Regions from separate parts of the Homo sapiens genome. Here region 2 is reported to be linked to region 1. Evidence: microRNA targets listed by miRTarBase, many of them from high-throughput screens and not tested one by one. Region 1 holds a microRNA gene; the other region holds the end of a gene's coding sequence.
What was found. The annotated mature microRNA hsa-miR-1-3p reads UGGAAUGUAAAGAAGUAUGUAU and lies in region 1 at 2,432-2,453, opposite strand. An mRNA with a match to its seed (bases 2 to 7 or 8) in the 3' UTR can be bound and repressed. Matches are read on the target gene's strand: a 7mer-m8 pairs with bases 2 to 8, a 7mer-A1 pairs with bases 2 to 7 and ends in A, and an 8mer does both.

Region 2: the mRNA of PLEKHG2 is a reported target of hsa-miR-1-3p. Seed matches in the 3' UTR shown: 7mer-A1 at 1,255-1,261 and 7mer-m8 at 3,045-3,051.

Annotation. Positions count from the first base shown.
Region 1 is chr20:62,553,525-62,556,803 of GRCh38, reverse strand. It overlaps MIR1-1 (microRNA 1-1), which reads right to left and starts at 2,498; the gene lies at 2,428-2,498. It overlaps MIR1-1HG (MIR1-1 host gene), which reads right to left. Exons shown (of 4, transcript NR_171007.1): 2 at 3,139-3,279. RefSeq lists an enhancer at 1-84.
Region 2 is chr19:39,424,703-39,427,981 of GRCh38, forward strand. It overlaps PLEKHG2 (pleckstrin homology and RhoGEF domain containing G2), which reads left to right. Exons shown (of 19, transcript NM_022835.3): 19 at 1-3,279. The coding sequence ends at 592. Among named protein-coding and RNA genes, the nearest start is that of RPS16, 9.6 kb to the right of the region's middle.

The DNA of each region.
Region 1 (3,279 bases):
AGTGAGAGACACCGGCACTGGCCACCTCCTCATGGCCACACAAACCCACCTGGGTTCCCGAGCTGGCAGGCGAGGGGGTGGGTGTCCCATGTCCAGCCCCCTCAGCCCAGTCCAGGCTCATTTCCCTCTGAGAGTCCCGGCCCCCATGGTAGCGTGCCTAAGCCGTCTCAGGAGAGTCCCTGCGGGCAAGACATAGCCAGTGAGGGTCTGTGCCCCCGCCCTGCCTGCTCTCCCCTCCTTCAAACGGACAGGCACAAAGACCCCCACAGGGGAAAGTCCCAGCGTGTCCATGCCCCACGCCAGTTTGGGGTTCCCGTCCTGGCTGCTGCCCGGGAGCCAAGCTTTAGAGATTCACGCATGGGAGACTCCAGCCCCGGGTCCCAGTGTCTCCAGGAAAGCAGCAGGATCCCCAGGGAGCACCATCAGGCCACACGTGCAGGGGAGAGGGGCTCGGGCTGCCATGGGCGGTGTCCGTGCAATGCTCATTTTTAATTCAGCAGATCAGAGACTGGAGGTGATTTACCGCCAAGCAGGCCGCAGCTCTCTCCCTGTGAACTCTCCAGTTTTACTGCTCAGTCAAACCTAATTCCAAAACACTAATGCTTTTATTTAAACACCACATCCTGCAATAAAGCTTTAATGTACAACAGCCGCATCTAGGGGAAAAGAACGGTGTGTCTGTGGCCACCGGCAGCCTCGGTGGCCACACGCCCGGCTACTTCCCTCCCTGTGGCCGGAGCTGGGAGCAGGCAGGGAAGAGATGACGTCAGCGGATGCTGGGCACTGACCCTCCGGGTCCAGAGGCCGAGAGGAGGCTGTGCCCGAGGTCAACACCCGCCCCCTTGCTGCTACGCCAGATGGGGCTGAGGCTGGGAGAACGAAGTTTCCAGAAGGAAGACCTGAAGGCCAGGAGCCCTGACTGCCAGGCCCTCCCCTCCAGTCACCTCGAGGCTCCCTGAGGGGTGGGAGCCACCTGAAAGCTCAGAACGGCCCCCAATCCCTTTATCCAGCGCTCCCTATGCTGGCCCCAGCTGCTCAGGTGACCTGGCTGCCCCCAGACCCAAGGCCTCCAGCCGCTGCAGGAGGGGGCTGCCTGCCTGTCCCTTCCCGCCTCATTCCTGCCGAAGGCCAGGGTGCGGGAGGTAGGGCACAGGGGCACCGCTGTGGCTGGAGCAGTGCCAAGGCAGAGAGGACACACACCCCAGAAATTAATCCTGAGGCCTGTGGCAGGGTGGGGGTGCCCAGGCAGGGACCTGGCCTCATCCCAGGTGGCAAACGCCTCCAATCTGAGACTCAGAAACGAGCCGGGCAAACGCCCCTCACACAGCAGCCCAGCCGCTGCCTAAGACCCCAGAACCCGCCGCCCATCCTCTCCTTGAAGGACCAGCACTGGGGAAAAGGGTTTCACGGACGGATCCGGACCTGCCCTCATCCCCTGGGCCCCAGGACATCCTCCCAGTCCTTTCTCGGGTCAGGACTGGGATGGCGGCAGAGCAGATGGCTCTCAGGCCCCCGACAGGTGGGGCAAGGGGCCCTGGGCCACACGCTGCTTTCTGCCAAAGCCTCACCTGCATTCACAGCAAAACATGCCTCAGGTTGGATTCGGCGGAACAGAGAGAAAGCTGAACCGGGGCTTTGGTGGGGGTACAGGTTGGGGCGGCATGAACCAGACATTTGGCAAAATCGAACGGCTCCCAGGCCCCTGGGGTGGGCTGTGGGTTCAGGGCTGCACAGACTCAGCTCCTCTGACCCTGTCCCAGGTGCCCTCGGCAGAGGAGTGGGGCCTAAGGGCAGTGGTGGCCCTGACCCTGCCCGCGTCCCCAGCATCTCGTGTGGGCTGCGCCTTCCTTGGAGGCTACATGCCTCCGAGTTCCTCTGCCTTGCCCTACAGCCGGGAGGGCTGGATGCAGGTGCAGGAGGTGCCTTCCCTCCGCAGACTCTACCATGTGCTGCCCAGCCTCTCCCTCCTTTCTGCATCCAGCCACCTGCCCTTTTCCAAACTCGCTCTTGTCTTGTGCCTCTGAGCAGTTTCTGCCCTGGCCACACGTGGCCCTTTCTGCCGGCTGATGGCCTCTTCCAGGATGGCCATCAGTGGAGCCCCCAGAGCCGCCGCCACCACTCCGTGCTTTCCAGCCACGGCCCCGACCCCCCAGCCCTCACCAGCCCCGCGCTGGACCCCGCGCCTGCCGGAGGCCGCCTCCCCTCTGCCGCAGTCAGCAAGCTGAATATTTAATGTCTGGTGAGCACTTCCACCTGCTGACACAGGCAAAGTGACAGAACAATGCTGGCGGGGACACGACCGTCCACCAACGCCCAGGCAGCCTGCCGCCCCAGCCTCACCCCCACCACAGCCGCCTGGCTGGCTGTCGGCCGCGGCGGCCCCCGTGGTGTGGAGTGCCCCTCAGTGCGGCGAGAGAGGTCCCGGCCTGAGATACATACTTCTTTACATTCCATAGCTTAGCAGGTCCATATGGGCATATAAAGAAGTATGTTTCCCAAGCAGGCAGTCTGCATGCAGTTCCAAGACCCCGGGACGCCGCCCCGGTAGAAGCTGACCCCACTGCGATGTAGAGAAGGCAGCTCAGAGGCAGTGTAACTTCTTCCCTGGAGTCTACTGCCGGAGCCCTCTCTGTGTGAGCAGGACAGCCTTCCTGCCACTGCTGCCTGGTGTCCAGCCACCCCCAGGGGCCCAGGACTCCCTGCCCCCTTCTGACCTCGGCGCCCCTCCATCCCTGAATCCATCTCTCTCTGTCTGTCTCACACACTCACACGATCCAGAAAGGCAGAAGTGGACAGTGAGCCCCAGAAAGTCTCGAGCGCCTGTCCCTGGCCCCAGCAGTAGCTCGGTTTTGCGTCCATGGAAGAGACAGGCTGCCCCTCCACCCTCACCCCAGAGCAGGGAGGCATCATCCATGTCCCAAACTTTCAAAGCCAACACTTTCCTGTCCCCCTGGGTCACCTCATCCCAGCCAAGCCCAGAGAGGGCTGGGTGGAGAGAGGAACCTTGGGGGGCGCCCTGCCCAGCACCCCACTCGCAGGACCAGCCTCCTCCTTCTCCGGGAGCTGGACAACTCCTTGCTCCTGAGGCCAGACGAGGAACTGCAGACCAGAGACCCGAGAGGTGTCCTGGGGGCTTACCTGGGCATCTGCTGGTTTCCTGGGCAGGTCCCTGGTGAAGGCTGCCTCCCGGGACCCCGTATCCATGAGGAAGGGCTCAGCACCTCTCTCCGAAGATGCAGGCGAGAAAGACGATGCTTGGAGGAGTCCAGGTTCCCAGAG
Region 2 (3,279 bases), not on the chromosome of region 1:
GGTCCAAAAACTCACACCTTCGTTGGAGCAGAAGAGCCTCATAGATGCCCATGTTCCAGCTGCCACACCTTTACCTGAGAGAGGAGGCTCTCTAGACATTCAGGGCCTCTCACCCACCCCAGTTCAGACCACCATGGTTTTGTCCAAACCAGGAGGCTCCTTAGCCTCTCACGTTGCCAGGTTGGAGTCTTCAGACTTGACGCCACCTCATAGTCCCCCACCTTCCAGCCGTCAGCTCCTGGGCCCCAATGCAGCTGCCCTCTCCAGATACCTGGCAGCCTCATATATCAGCCAGAGCCTGGCTCGGCGGCAGGGGCCTGGGGGAGGGGCCCCCGCAGCCTCCCGGGGCTCCTGGTCCTCTGCTCCCACGTCACGGGCATCTTCGCCGCCCCCCCAGCCCCAGCCACCACCTCCCCCAGCCAGGCGGCTCAGCTATGCCACGACGGTTAACATCCACGTGGGCGGGGGTGGGCGGCTGCGGCCAGCCAAGGCCCAGGTCCGGTTGAACCACCCTGCTCTCTTGGCCTCCACACAGGAATCTATGGGCCTTCACAGGGCCCAGGGGGCTCCTGATGCCCCCTTCCACATGTGAGCCAGGACATGAGGCTTCCCTGAAGCAAGGATTTCAGCCAGATGCCATAGACCCTCAGAACTTGACCTGGAAGTCCAGACACTGAACGCAGGCCTCAAAACTGCTGCGGCCTTCCAACTCCTGGTATCTGCATCGGCGAATGGCCCTTCTTGCCTTGATCCACAGGGATGGGGAAGGGAGGAATGTCATTAATGTTTTGTTAATACTGATTCTTTCATGCAATGATGTGTATTTTCCCATTCTGGAGGCTGTGGGAGATGACAAGACAATGAATGGGAAGGTCTGACACAGAACAAATCAGCGGTTCTGAAAGCTTGGGGAATCTCAGACTCCTTTGAGAATTATTGGAAAATGGACCCACTATAACTTGGCGTGTGTGTGAACTGCTTGATGCCCATCCAGGAAAGCCAAGTTAAGAAGCTTTGCTTCAAGTAGACACTAGAAATCCATTCCCTTGGCAATTTATACAGTTCACGTCTCCCACCATCCGTTCATCTCACCCACCCTGCCATCTCTCCACCTATCCATCTGGCTATTGCTCCATCTAGCTTTCCCGCTCCATCTACCCATCTTCCAATCCATCATCTCACGTATCTGCCTTGCTTATCCAACTGTCTGCCTTATTCACCCACCCATCCCTTTATCATTCTAACCCCATCTGGCATTCCATCCCTCCATTTATCCATCTTCCCACTTACCCATCTTCTCCATCCAGCACTCCGTTCATCAGTCCGTCTCTCCCTCCATATTTCCATCTGTCCATTCATCCACTCATTTTGCCATCCATACATATTCACCCAGCCATCTCCCAATCCATCGACATACCCCATCCCTCCCTCACTGGACTCTCCGGGGTCTTAGTACTATGATACTTCAGAGACAATTCCATGCTGATACGGGGGAGATCAATTTTGGGGCTCTGGGATAAGTCTGTCCCACATCTGTCTGATTTCCCTTGGCATCCTTCCCGTCAGTTCCTCTTGAATATCCCAGTTCTTGTACCCACTCACATACCTCAGATCCCTTCACTCCTCCCCGCAGTTTGCAGCCTCTACAATTCATCCACATGCTCCCTCCCCCAGCAAAATAATTCAGGTCGTGGAGACAAAAGGCTTTTATGTTAGGTTCTGTCTGCCCCCTTGTTCCAGCAGTGGTATGCCCAGTGAGAGGCACAATTTAAACGGTTTCTTTGGTGATGATATTAGCTACTTTCATCAAATACTTAGCCTCTTGTGCTTTAGCACATTATTTATGTAAGCTCCCCTAGGATTCTCTGAAGCACCCTGGTGTCCTGGCTGTGAATTCAAGTCCCATCTTTACTTATTTGGTGTGGGTCCTCCCTCTGAGCCGGTTTTCTCATCTACAAAATGAAGACAACAGTACTTCCCTCCTGGGATCATTGAAAGATTTAGGGAGCATATCCTTCCACTTCCCAAACATATTTGAACCTCTGACTTGCTTAGGAGCATCATTCAAATCACAGATCCCCCAGTATCTAGTCCCAACCTATTGAATCAGGATCCCCAGGGAAGGAGGAGCTTGGGAATCTGATTTTTTTTTTTTTTTTTAGATAAAGTCTCACTCTGTCACCCAGGCTTGAGTGCAGTGGCAAAATCTTGGCTCATTGCAACCTCCACCTCCTGGGTTCAAGCAATTCTCATGCCTCAGCTTCCCGACATAGCTGGGATTATAGGCGTGCACCACCATGCCCAGCTAATTTTTCGTTGTTGTTGTTGTTGTTTTGTTTTTGAGACAGAGTCTCGCTCTGTTGCCCAGGCTGGAGTACAGTGGCACGATCTTGGCTCACTGCAAGCTCCGCTTCCCGGGTTCACGCCATTCTCCTGCCTCAGCCTCCCGAGTAGCTGGGACCACAGGTGCCCGCCACCACGCCCGGCTAATTTTTTTGGTATTTTTAGTAGAGACGGGGTTTTACCATGTTAGCCAGGATGGTCTCGATCTCCTGACCTCGTGATCCTCCCGCCTCGGCCTCCCAAAGTGCTGGCATTACAGGCGTGAGCCATCATTCCTGGCTGGGAATCCGAATTTTTTTTTTTTTTTAGACGGAGTTTCGCTCTTGTTGCCCAGGCTGGAGTTCAATAGCATGATCTCGGCTCACTGCAACCTCTGCCTCCCAGGTTCAAGTGATTCTCCTGCCTCTAGCTGGGATTGCAGGCGCCCACGACCACGCCCAGCTAATTTTTGTATTTTGTAGTAGAGACGGGATTTCGCCATATTGGCCAGGCCATAGTGGTCTTGGACTCCTGACCTCAGGTGATCCGCCCACCTCGGCCTCCCAAAGTGTTGGGTTTACAGGCGTGAGCTACCATACCCTGCCCAGGAATCTGAATTTTTAGCAATCAGTTAGCAGCAAATAAGCTGAGATTTCCTGGGTACTAAGCACATACTATGAGCATTACAGCCGCTTTATATAAGCTCGTTCACTGTCCTCATTACATTCCTAATATGCAAGTGAGCATGTTTTTTAATCCTCAGTCTAGAGGTGAGGAAACTGAGGCAGGCACAGAGAGGCTAAGGGATTTGCCTAGTCGCACAGCTAGGAAGGTGCAGCACTGAGACTCGAATCCACACAGCTTGGCTTAAGTCTACCATTAAATTTGCCTGTCCTGGCCAGGTGCGGTGGCTCACGCCTGTAATCCCAACACTTCGTGAGGCCAAGGCAGGTGGAT